Linked DNA regions of Homo sapiens. The protein of the gene in region 1 interacts with the protein of each later gene in a pairwise test. Each region holds a gene or a part of one and is shown on either strand. Other genes may lie near its edges. The genes, in order: RAET1G and KLRC4-KLRK1.

The links.
Region 2: the proteins of RAET1G (region 1) and KLRC4-KLRK1 interact in binary tests that used the Homo sapiens proteins (3 or more experiments, as listed by UniProt).

Annotation. Positions count from the first base shown.
Region 1 is NC_000006.12:149,916,129-149,920,173, forward strand, and holds the end of RAET1G (UL-16 binding protein 5 preproprotein), read right to left. Parts: intron 3,689-4,045; coding exon 3,425-3,688; intron 3,381-3,424; exon of another isoform or gene 3,197-3,380; coding exon 2,915-3,196; intron 2,257-2,914; coding exon 2,046-2,256; coding exon of another isoform or gene 1,871-2,045; exon of another isoform or gene 1,397-1,870; coding exon of another isoform or gene 1,345-1,396; exon of another isoform or gene 947-1,344; coding exon 784-946; 3' UTR 750-783; downstream 1-749.
Region 2 is NC_000012.12:10,407,016-10,414,953, forward strand, and holds the start of KLRC4-KLRK1 (NKG2-D type II integral membrane protein), read right to left. Parts: upstream 3,132-7,938; 5' UTR 3,084-3,131; intron 2,743-3,083; exon of another isoform or gene 2,561-2,742; coding exon of another isoform or gene 2,374-2,560; intron 1,996-2,373; coding exon of another isoform or gene 1,897-1,995; intron 1,368-1,896; coding exon of another isoform or gene 1,314-1,367; intron 775-1,313; coding exon of another isoform or gene 638-774; 5' UTR 621-637; exon of another isoform or gene 369-620; intron 1-368. Other genes in the region: KLRC4 (NKG2-F type II integral membrane protein), read right to left, coding at 638-774, 1,314-1,367, 1,897-1,995, 2,374-2,560.

The DNA.
Region 1 (4,045 bases):
TCCTTTGTCAAATCACAGTGTCAGCCCAGGCCCTGCACCTGACCAGGGGATGGAGTGGAGGGGCCTGCAAGACTGAAGCTGGTAGTGATGGGCCTGCTCCCTCACTCAAGGCCCTCTCTACCATCTGATGAGAAGGCCTAAAACATGGCAAGGGGTAGGGGGAGCCCATCCAAAGAGAGGGCTCTGTATTCCTGTGTCCTTGGCATTGGGTGGGCCTGCAGGCAAATATTCCTCCTTCCCCTTCTTCCTCAGCCTCTCCTCACACTGCAATCAGCACCCATAGCTCTGAAGGTGACTGTCCCTGTTCCACCTTATTCATTCCTGGTCCAGCCCAGTGGTGCCCATGGACTTAAGCAGCAGCTCAGGTCCCCCGTGTCTGAGTCCACTCTGCTCCTGGCAGGGCCATGAGCGGGCTCAGGATCTGGGGTGTGCAGGAAGGTGATGGCAAGGGAGCTGCCTCAAGGTCTGGACTCGAACCCCATGGGTCCATGGGACTGACTTTTTAAAAATTTTTTTCATGTGCAGCCTCTACTCTTCGCCTTCCACCTTAATTCCTGGAACCCAAGCCACTTTCTGTGGGAAGGCAGCCCTGCGCCCCCTCCTTTTCAATTAGGTGTACCAAGGCTCTCCCAGCCCCCTCCTTCTGGGATTACACTCATAGTTGTAGGGACCAGCCCTACAGGGCCTGTGGGTTTTTCTCTTCGTGTGCGGAGATGAGAGATCGTAGAAATAAAGACACAAGACAAAGAGACGGAAGAAAAGACAGCTGGGCCCAGGGAACCATCAAGATATGGAGACCTGTAGTGGCTCCGAATACCTGGCTGCGCCGTTATTTATTGTATACAAGGCAAGAGGGCAGGGTAAGGAGTGTGAGTCGTCTCCAATGATAGGTAAAGTCACGCGAGTCACGTGTCCACCAGACAAGGGGCGCTTCGCTATTTGGTAGCTGAGGCGGAGAGAGAGAGGACAGCTTACGTCATTGTTTCTTCTATGTATTTCTCGGACTTCAATACTTTCACTAATTCTGCTACCGCTATCTAGAAGGCGGAGCCAGGTGTACAGGGCGGAACATGAAAGTGGACCAGGAGCGTGACCCTGAAGCACAGCATCACAGGGAGACGTTTAGGCCTCCGGATGGCTGCGGGCAGGCTTGACTGATGTCAGGCCTTCCACAAGAGGTGGTGGAGCAGAGTCTTCTCTAACTCCCCCGGGGAAAGGGAAACTCCTTTTCCCGGTCTGCTAAGTAACAAGTGCCTTCCCAGGCACTGGCGCTACTGCTAGACTGAGGAGCCCACTACTGGCCCTGTCTGGGCATGACAGAGGGCTCACACTCTTGTCTTCTGGTCACTTCTCACCGTGTCCCTTCAGCTCCTGTCTCTGCATGGCCTGGTTTTTCCTGGGTTATAATTGTGGAACAGAGATTATTATAACATTGGAAAAAAGAGTAACACTACAGACTAATGATTGATAATATTCATAGATAATCATGTCTGTATTCTACGTCTAATACAACTATTCTTATTTTAAGTATTTTCTTTATTATACTGGAACAGCTTGTGCCTTCAGTCTCTTGCCTTGGCACCTGGGTGGCTTGCCGCCCACACATATCTCTCTCTTAGCCTCAGAGATGGAATCCCCCTTCCCTTGTCATACCTCATGTAAAGCTACCCTGATGCACCTAACCCAATTAAGAGGACTGCCCATGTCTGAATTCCTGCTGCCTGCAGGCCACACACCCTTCCTGAACAGAAACCTGCTCTGAATCAGGCCTGAACTTGCTAAACCCTCTCAAGCTCAACAGACCCTGAGCCTTGGTATGGCACCACTGCGCCTTTCCCTCTGGCCTTTGATGGTGAGAATCCATCAGAACTCAGGGCAGAGCTGCCCAGGTCATTTCCAACAAGCAACACAAGGTCTCATTCACCTGTCTCATGTTAGGATGAGAAGGTCCCAGCCATAGGGAGTGGGACTCTGGGAATTCTCCATCCCTGTCCTCCCTCCTCACCCACCTGCCCTTTGCTCCACTCCCAATTCTGCCCCCATACCTGTCACTCCAAAGGACTCTCCTCAGCAGCCAGGTAGGATGAAGCAGGGGAGGATGAGGAGGAGGCTGCAGGGACTGAGGGTGGTGGCCATGGCTTTGGGTCAGACTGTGCCTGGAGCATATGAGGAGACACATGATGAGGAGGCAGCAAAGGATGAGGGTGGTGGCCGTGGCCCTGGGTTGGGCTGTGCCTGAGGACATGGTGGGTGGTGCTGAAATGGAAGCACAAGAGTGACAACCCTTGTCCAGGCCCCAAATCTGAGGAGATGCCTCCTCAGCTCCTGCTGACCCAGGTCATCCTGGAAGGCAGAGGTTTTGTCCCCTCTGCTATGGGGCAGCCCCTGGGAGAGTTCCTGGGGTAGGAAGGGAGAGGGGGTGTCCCTTGGCCTCAGGGAGCTCACAGAGCTGCTGAGGGAAGCAAGGTGACAGCAAAGCCCACCCTCCTGCTGTGGCGGAAGAGGAGGTGATGCTCCAGGGTGCGGGAGGGGAGGGTCACGAGGCTGGCCTTGGAGGAGGTTTTGATGGATTTCCAGAAACAGACCAGAGGAGGAAAGGAAAAGTGATTCTCAAGAGGGAACACTAAGGAGAAAGGCCTGAAAATAGTGACACCTGCAGTTTCGAGGCTGGTGAGAAATCCACAGTGTGGGGAACAGAAGCAAGTGCAGTGAGGAAGAGGAGTCAGGAGGGAGAAGGAAGAGGAGGGTGGGAGAGCACAGGCACGCCAGCACCCCCAGGAGGAGCACCCCACGAGGAGGTCATTTTAACATAAACGTGTACACTGGGATGATTGAAGCTGAACTCAAGAATTAGTTTCTTGAGATCCCCATTTCTGATCTCATTGGAGATCCCCATTTCTTTTTCTCCTGTTACCTCCTGCACTTGGCTCCAGGGTGCTGTCCATGCCCATCAAGAAGTCCTCAAGCCATCCTGTGCAGTCTCCCATTGAGATGTAATGGAAGGACATGGTCATATCCTTGTCATTCTCCCACTTTTCTTTCATCTTTCTGGCTCCAGGATGAACCGTTGTCCACATTCTGTTTTCTGAGTCAAAGAGGAGGAAGATCTGTCCATCGAAACTGAGCTGCCAAGATCCACTGCCGTGTCCTTCGGCTTTCTGCTCACAAGACATCCTGGCCTGCAGGGTGAGGGGTTCTGCCCCCATCAAAGAGAGATCAGCTCTGGCCTTGACAGATATTGAGCCCCCATCCTCTTCCACTTGCAATTTCCTGGTCTTACTTGCTCTGCCACATCCTGGCCTTGCCTCTAGACGTCTTGCGGGGTGAGATGACCTTCCTATTTGTATTTTTACATGAAAACTATAAATGCCTCTAACCTACCACTGTATCTGCTCCCTGCTGTCCTGGGCCATCTGAAACTTACCCTTGGGTATGTAATTCTCCAGCTGAATGTCAAGCAGTTGCTCTGTAAGTATGTCCACCACCTCTCTCAGTACTGGGTTCTGTGCTTTCCAGGCCGTTGTGACATTTAGTTTCTTCCCCAGGGGACTGACGGGTGTGACTGTCTTGCTGCCACAGTCATAGTGAAGAAAAGTCTTTTCATCCACCTGGCCTTGAACCGCACACCACCGTGGTCCAGGTCTGAACTTAGGGATGACGGTGATGTCATAGCAAAGAGAGTGAGGGTCTGTGGAGAAAGGCAGGTGAGGGGTGGGTGGGGAGGAAAAGACCCCTAGATACCCCTCCTCCACACTGTGACAATAAGAGGAAGCCTCTGGAGGGCTGGGCTGGCCCAGCAAGGAGTGCCTCCTCCAGAACTGTGGTGTCCACAAGATTAAGGCGAGTGCTCCCCACTTCCATGAGGGCAAAGAGGAGGAGGAGGTCCCTGCCTGCTGAGAAACCACATGTCCCCAGACATGTCCCACTGCCCCTCTGTCCACATCGGTCAACACAGGACCTTGCTAGAGAGGTGCCAGGAGTGCTAGAGGAGGAAGGGCCTGGATGACAGAGGATCTTCAGCAGTAGCCCACGTGGACTGTGGGAG
Region 2 (7,938 bases), on another chromosome or scaffold:
AGGGCACGAGACTCACTTCCCCATCCAGAGACACAGGACTGAACAGATTGTAAATGTTCTATGCACATCATGCAGCAATGAAAAGCAACAAACAACAGCTAACTGCATTATTGCACAAATATCATATAGGAGTAAAAGAAGACACACATGAAAATACACATTGTATGATTCCCTTGACATAAATTCTGGAACAGGCAAAGCTTATTTATCACATTAAACATCAATACAAAGGTTTGGAGAGGAGGCAGGAAAAGTGAGGAAGGCATACACAGGAGCAGGACTGCTGGGGCTGGAAACTTCTATTTCATGATCTGCCCTGTATCATGAATCCATTCACTTTGTGATCAATATGCATGACCATGACATGCTTAGTTTTCTTTATATTTATTTTGTGATAAAAACATTTATAGAAGCATGGGTTTCCATGAAAAGCAAAACTGGAAATAACCAAATGTGCATTAACAGTATATGAATATAAAAATATTATGAAGTCAGTTGAATACTACACAGACTTAAAAATATATGAAGTAAATATATGTATAAACATATGGATGATTTCTACAAATATGATATTGACAGAAATAAGCTTTTAGTAAAGTGTTGAAACATTTACGTCTTACCATTTCTTCCTCATTATCTATAGAAAGCAGATCAGAGTTCTTCGAAGCACAGGCCAGCAAACTCTTTCTTCCCAAGTTCTTCTTTCCTTACCAATGTAATAACAACTGTTGGAATATGTAATCCACTCCTCAGGACAATGGCCACAATGACGTGCTAAATAAAAATATGAATTACTATGCAAAACAATATGTTTACAAATGAAAATTATTTTATATATTTGCAAAGCTATAAACATACAGGTACACAATATCTGCATCCTCATAAGTTGTTAAATATATATTTTAAAATAACGAGTCACTCATACGCACATGCACAATAAAAGGTCCACCTCTCATCCCTTAATTGTGTTCCCATACAAAACAAGCCCGCCAACAAAAATCCACCCTACACATCTTAAACATCACTGAACAAAACTGCTTTTTAAGTATAGTAAAATTATTTATCTCTTATCATCTTATAGTAGTAGGAAATTTCAGTTAATTAAATGCAACAAGAGGGTATAATGATTTTAACTGAGCATTTCTACTTATTATTGGAGAAAAGGACATGCCCTCATATAATCTTTATTTTATAAACATTTATGGCTCATTGTTATAGTTTATTTTCCCAAAACATTTTATTATCATTTTGCATCCCTTTAGAGACAAAATATAAACTGTACTAACATCAGAACATTGACAATCATAATGTACCTTTCTGCATTCTTCTATTCAGGGAAAAATTGTTCTGCTCCAGTACTCCAATACCTAGAAAAATTAAAGTGATTCTTACAAAATTAATATCTAGACAAATTATAATAAATTCAGTTGCTTACTTTGAAATACAAAATTTAAAATTATTTTAAATTGGAACAATCTGAAATAAAAATGACTTTTCTATAAAAATAATGAGATCTTTAAAACAAATATTTTTAAAGCCATTAGCATAAAACTTCACCATCTCTTATAGTATTTGATCTAACCACTTTCAAAAATTAATTTGTTTTTCTAAATATTTTTTCTCTTAAAACATGTCTTTGAGTCATGAAATCAGAATACATCTCTCTGTGTGTGTATCATATATACATATATATTTAGTACACACAAAAAAATAAATGTTTTCTACAATTATTCTGTTATTTATAAATTTGAAAAGTTCAGAAGCAGCATATTATCTTGGGGTTCAGAGATATACATTAAACAGAGAATTCTAATCCTCATTATTATGAAATGTTTCAAGGCGCTTCCAATCATTATAGTGAAAAGTTCCCTTATAATCTTTCAAGAATATGCTTACAAGGAATAAGAACTATTGTTTTTAACACAGTGGCCATCAGGACAATGCAAATGATTCCTAGGACCTCAGCAGTGAGCTTCTCTGGAGGTGGCAGTAAACCTGCAGGGAGAGAAAGAGGCACTGAGAGAGGGGAGATAGAGAGTTGATGAGAAGGTTTACGTACAAGAGAACTCACGTGCACAGGAAAACATAATGATAAACTCTGTCCTCTAAATCTACATCTACTCTAGTAATCTTTCTCTCAGAATATACCATTTCATTATCAGTAAATATAATGCTCCATGAGTTGTTAATCACAAATTACAATTGAACAATGCCTGAATAAAATCAGGCTTCAGATTTCATATTAGAATATTAGATCCTGACTTTGACCTCTGATTCTCACAAGTGCAAAATATTCCCTAATCTTTCCCCACCTTTCTGCATTCAACTGCACATCCTAGAACAATAATATTGAAGATCTATTTAATGTTTTACCTTTGCAGTGATATGTCTTGTCATTCCCTTGATGATCCGAAGAAGCATTTTGAAGGTTTAATTCTACTTGGAATATTTCCTGTTTGGTTCCTGAAATGGAGATTTTATTGCCCTTAAGTTTCCTTTGCTGCCTCTTTGGGTCCTGGGCCAGACTCACTTCTGAGTAGGTTCCTCTTTGTTTATTCATCTCTGCAGCTGTGTGATGTCAGGGACTGTGCTCTATGATAACTGCACTTAAGAAGCTATAAGTGGTGTATATTTTGACAGGATCCCTGGTATAGGCAAACTGCATGTGTTGGAGGCTGAGTAGTAATGTTCATTTTGCTGTTGACCAATATAAAAGTCTGGTACTAATTTCCTAAAGTTTTAAACTGAAATCTCTTTAAACAATAGGTCACTTTTTAAAAGGCCTTCTATATTTGACATAATATTATTAATGGGAACAATAAAAAACAATACATTTGTGAAAACTAAGAAGTAACTGAATATAAATATCTTTATTAATTTAAAATCAGATTCTACAGAAATATTTTATCACCAATAGAATACCTGTGTAAAAAACTAAAATTGAAATTTGAAAATAAAATGCACTAATTGTATGACAATTTTAAAATTCATTAATGTAAGGATTGAGCGCTAAAGATGGAGGAATAATTTGTTGGCATATAGAACAACTTTTAATACTAAAATACATTAAGTTAGTGACTTACATTCGTTTACTAAAAGGGCATGAGGTCTTGGCAAATGTTTTTTATTCTGAATGATTGAGGAAAACAGAAAAATTGTTAAAATTTTAAAGAAATATTTTATACCTTGTAAAACATTACATTAACTTATGCATAAACTAAATACTACTGAAAAAGATTTAACTCTTTATTTTACAGAATTGATTGGTAATTGATTTAATGACTAAAATAGGAAAACTGAAAATGATAAATATAAGTTTGGACCATCTATGAAAGAACACTTTAAGTTCAAACTTTCAGAAAGACCCTGTGGTTGTTTTAAAAGGCAGCGAGGGTCACTTTGGTTGTGTAAGTAATTGTAATAAATCAGAAAATATAATTTAATAATCTAGTCAATGAGCTCTGTAGCCAGTGAGACCTAAAATTAATTACAGCTTTGAAACTCATAATGCATGACCTTTACAAAGTTACTTGGTGTCTACAACACCAGTTTACTAATCTAGATTGGGGAAAATAATTTATGAAGTATAATGTATATAAAACCCTTAACATACAACCTGGCACACATTAGTCCTCAATACATATTAGATATTTTAATTATTTTTAACACAATTGCCATTTTATTATTTCTAATTCATACTGAGTGTGTAAAATAACTAATGAGGTAGGAGTCTCATGTCAGTGTAGTACATCTTTTTTGCAATGTTTGTTTGGCTCAATTTTTTTTAGGTCGTCCTATTATTTATAATTAAGTTTAGATTTGCATTTTATGGAAACTACTTCATTATTACATTCTTAAAAAAATAAAATCTGCTTCAATTAAATATAAGTATGTGTATGAGAAATTATGTTTGACATTCACAATTTGATGTATCCATTAAAAATGCATTTTTAAAGTCTGGGCTAAATATAAAGTATTATTACATCTATAATGATTATAAAATTTCAAATTAATTCTTCATTGTCGTGATATTTATCGGTTTCACTCTAAATTATATTGATTAACAAACCTATTATGATGTATGCATGTGCTTGACTAATTCTCCACAGGCAATAATGTAAATACTTTAAGAAATCCTCAAACATATATTATATTTTGGGTTGCTTTTCACCCTGAATTATTCATGTACAGACAGTTCTACTTTGATTTTATTCTGTATTAACTTTACCTTGTTGCATCACATTTAATATTTACAATTTTCTACTAAAGGAGATGAGCTAGTAGAGAAACAGGAGACTAGCAACACATACCTTCTGTCATCAGAAAGTCACACGCCCCTTAGTGGAGAGGTCAGGTTACCTCTTAACGACACAAAAGACATCTGTGATCCGGTGAAACCCCGTCTCTACTAAAAATACAAAAACTTAGCCGGGTGTGGTGGCGGGCGCCTGTAGCTGCTTGGGAGGCTGAGGCAGGAGAACGGTTGAACCCGGGAGGCGTAGCTTGCAGTGAGCTGAGATCGGGAGCCACTGCACTCCAGCCTGGGCGACAGAGCGAGACTCTGTCTCAGAAAAAAACAAAAAACAAAAAACAGATATCTCTGATCTTCACAGACTGCCCTGTGAAAGCTCAGAGTGAGGCAAGAGTGCAAAAAGCAGATTCCTCATCAATGTATCACTTCGGATTTGAACAGGAAGTTTTCACACTAGGGCCATTTTGAATCAGTTTATCTCATCATACACCTCAGAATATAAGAGACTGAGCTGCTAGGGTGTCATTTAGTTTGTCCATTTTCAAGTGACTTTTAGAAATTATTTTTATAGTAAACAAGATTTGGGGAGAACAAAGACTACTACCCATGCAGTTGTTTCCATCTCAATCACAAACACTAAAATCTTATACCTTTTTCAGAGTCTCTTACATGTTTAACTTCTACATTTACACAGGGTGGCTAAAACTTGGGATTACGTACTTCTTTATCATATACCCCTATAATATCACTGCTAATATGACGATAAATTTTTAAAATAATAATCTTACCAATAGGAATTTAATGTATTTGTCACTAATTATTCTGAGAAAATACATTTCCACTTCATTGTAATTGACATCAATTCTCAAAGTTAAATTCCCAACTTACTTTCTTGATAGTTCTTAAAATTCTCTCATTCAGTTTTTTAAAAATAAATTAATCAGATAACTCTCATTGAAATATATGTCTCTGGGAAGAATAAATAATTAAAAAATATTGTACTATATCACCACGCCAGAGATTGAAATATATAAAAACCACTCATTATATTGTTCATTGATTTATTTTCCAATCATAACGGTCTGCATTTTAATATTAATATTTGTTGTAAATGACTAATGCTTAAATCAAACTATATAGAGAGGGAAAAGTAATTTTTAAAACATCATCTAGTTAAAAATAGGGAGGGCAGAAAAAGTAGATTTTTAAAACACAAGCTAAATGGTACATGAGCACTCAGGGGCGGTGGCTTGTGTCAGTAATCCCAGCAACTTGGGAGGCCAAGATGTGTTGATTTCTTGAGCTCAGGAGTTCAAGACCAGCCTGGTCAACATGATGAAACCCCGTCTCTACAAAAAAATACGAAAATTAGCCAGCATGATGGTATTGGCCTGTAGCCAGCTACTCTGGTTGCTGAGGTGGGAGGATCGCTTGAGCCTTGGAGGTGAGGTCGAGGCTGCAGTGAGCCGAGATGAAATTTACTGAAATTGGGGAAATATACTTCATAATGATAAATTAATTTTCCAAACCATTAGTAATATATTTTTTATCATTGCATATACCTAATGATACAAGTTCAACATATAGTTGAATAAAGTGAACAAGTAAACAATCATAAATGGGATTTTTAAAGACTCTTCTCTTGATGCTTAATACAAGACAGGCCAGTGAGCCTATAGAAAGATTTAAACTAGACAAGTAACCATCACTCATATGAATGCATTCACACACATATACTCACACGGATACTCAATTTCAATGTAGTACCGCTAGCCAAGCTTGGCTAGGAGACAGTTGAAATGTAGCTATTCAAATTTAACATTAATTAATAAAAATAAATAACATTTAAAACCAGTACCTCACCACATGAGCCACATTTATAAAGGGATGAAGAACATTTCCAGTTTAATAGAAAATGTTCTAACTATATTTTACCTACAACAGAAGTCAATAAACAAAAATCTGAGAACCTTATATGGTTTTTAATTCAGTAATATATGTCAAAATAACATATGGGCCAAAGAAATTATCAAGATGAATGGTCACAAAGGACTACTAAGGGAAGATTTTGAAAAGGCACAGATATTTTATTCCCAGTTTAAACATGGCAATACCATTATGGTCTTTACAGTTATTAAACAGGCAATAAAACTATATTATCAATGCATTTTAATGTCCATATGAAATAGAAAATTCCTGGGAAATGCTCATTACCAAAATATAGTACCTCAAATAGAAATCTGAGTAAACCCTACATGTATTGAAGAAATTCAGTTTAGCCATAAACTTTTCTACAAAAATAGCCTGCAAACTCAGATGGCATAACTAGTGAATGATAACATTTAAAAATAAAGCGGTACTCTTTATTATTATTATTATATTTTAAGTTCTAGGGTATATGTGCACAACGTGCAGGTTTGTTACATAGGCATAGATGTGCCATGTTGGTGTGCTGCACCCATCAACTCATCATTTACATTAGGTATTTCTCCTAATGCTATCCCTCCCCCAACCCCCCACCCCCCGACAGGCCCCGGTGTGTGATGTTCTCCTCCCTGTGTCCATGTGTTCTCATTGTTCAATTCCCACCTATGAGTGAGAACATGCGGTGTTTGGTTTTCTGTCCTTGTGATAGTTTGCTGAGAATGATGGTTTCCAGCTTCATCCATGTCCCTGCAGAGGACATGAACTCATCCTTTTTTATGGCTAAAGCAGTACTCTTAACAAATGCTTCCAGGTTATAGAGAAACAGAAAATCTTCCCAAGATAGCCTTGAGACCAAAACTTTTTCAAGTACATAGCTACAAATAAAAACGTGGTCAAATATCCTTGTGAACATAGATGAAGAAACATATCTTACCCTAGATATAGTAGTATGTGCACTGATATTTTATAAGGGGCAATATACAATGATCAGCATGGATTTGTTTCGGAAACAAAGCCTAGTTTAACATTTGACAAAAATAAAATTATTTTATAAAATGTTGTATAAAGAAAACATATATCATTCTAAGTAATAAAAAATAAAAATGTTACAATTGATAACATCTATTGAAAAAAGGAATATTATAAAACCACTTCAATATAAGAAAGATATGATGAAAAAAACACCAAACTTTGTAAATATGAATAATATGTTGAATTATTTTTTGCCAAAACCAGAAAATGATACATATGATACATGTAAAATTTGATTGTACCTTCTATTCAACTCTGGATATAAAGTACTAGCCAGAGAAAATAAATGAAGAAAAAATAAGTTGTGGCACATGGATAGAAAAAATAAAAGTGTGATTATTTGCAGGACACAGGCAGGGGAACATCACACACAGGGGACTGTTGTGGGGTGGGGGGAGGGGGGAGGGATAGCATTAGGAGATATACCTAATGCTAAATGACGAGTTAATGGGTGCAGCACACCAACATGGCACATGTATACATATGTAACAAACCTGCACATTGTGCACATGTACCCTAAAACTTAAAGTATAATAATAATAAAAAAAGAAAAAAAAAGAAAAAGAAAAGAAAATAAAATTGCTGTTTATATAGAAAATCCAGAAAAATCTGTTTGAAATGATAGATTTAAATATGTAAAATAAGTGAAAATGCAGACATCAGTTGTATTTCTATTTACAGTAACAAAAGTTATTAAAGGGAATATTAAAATCAGAATGCTATTTACA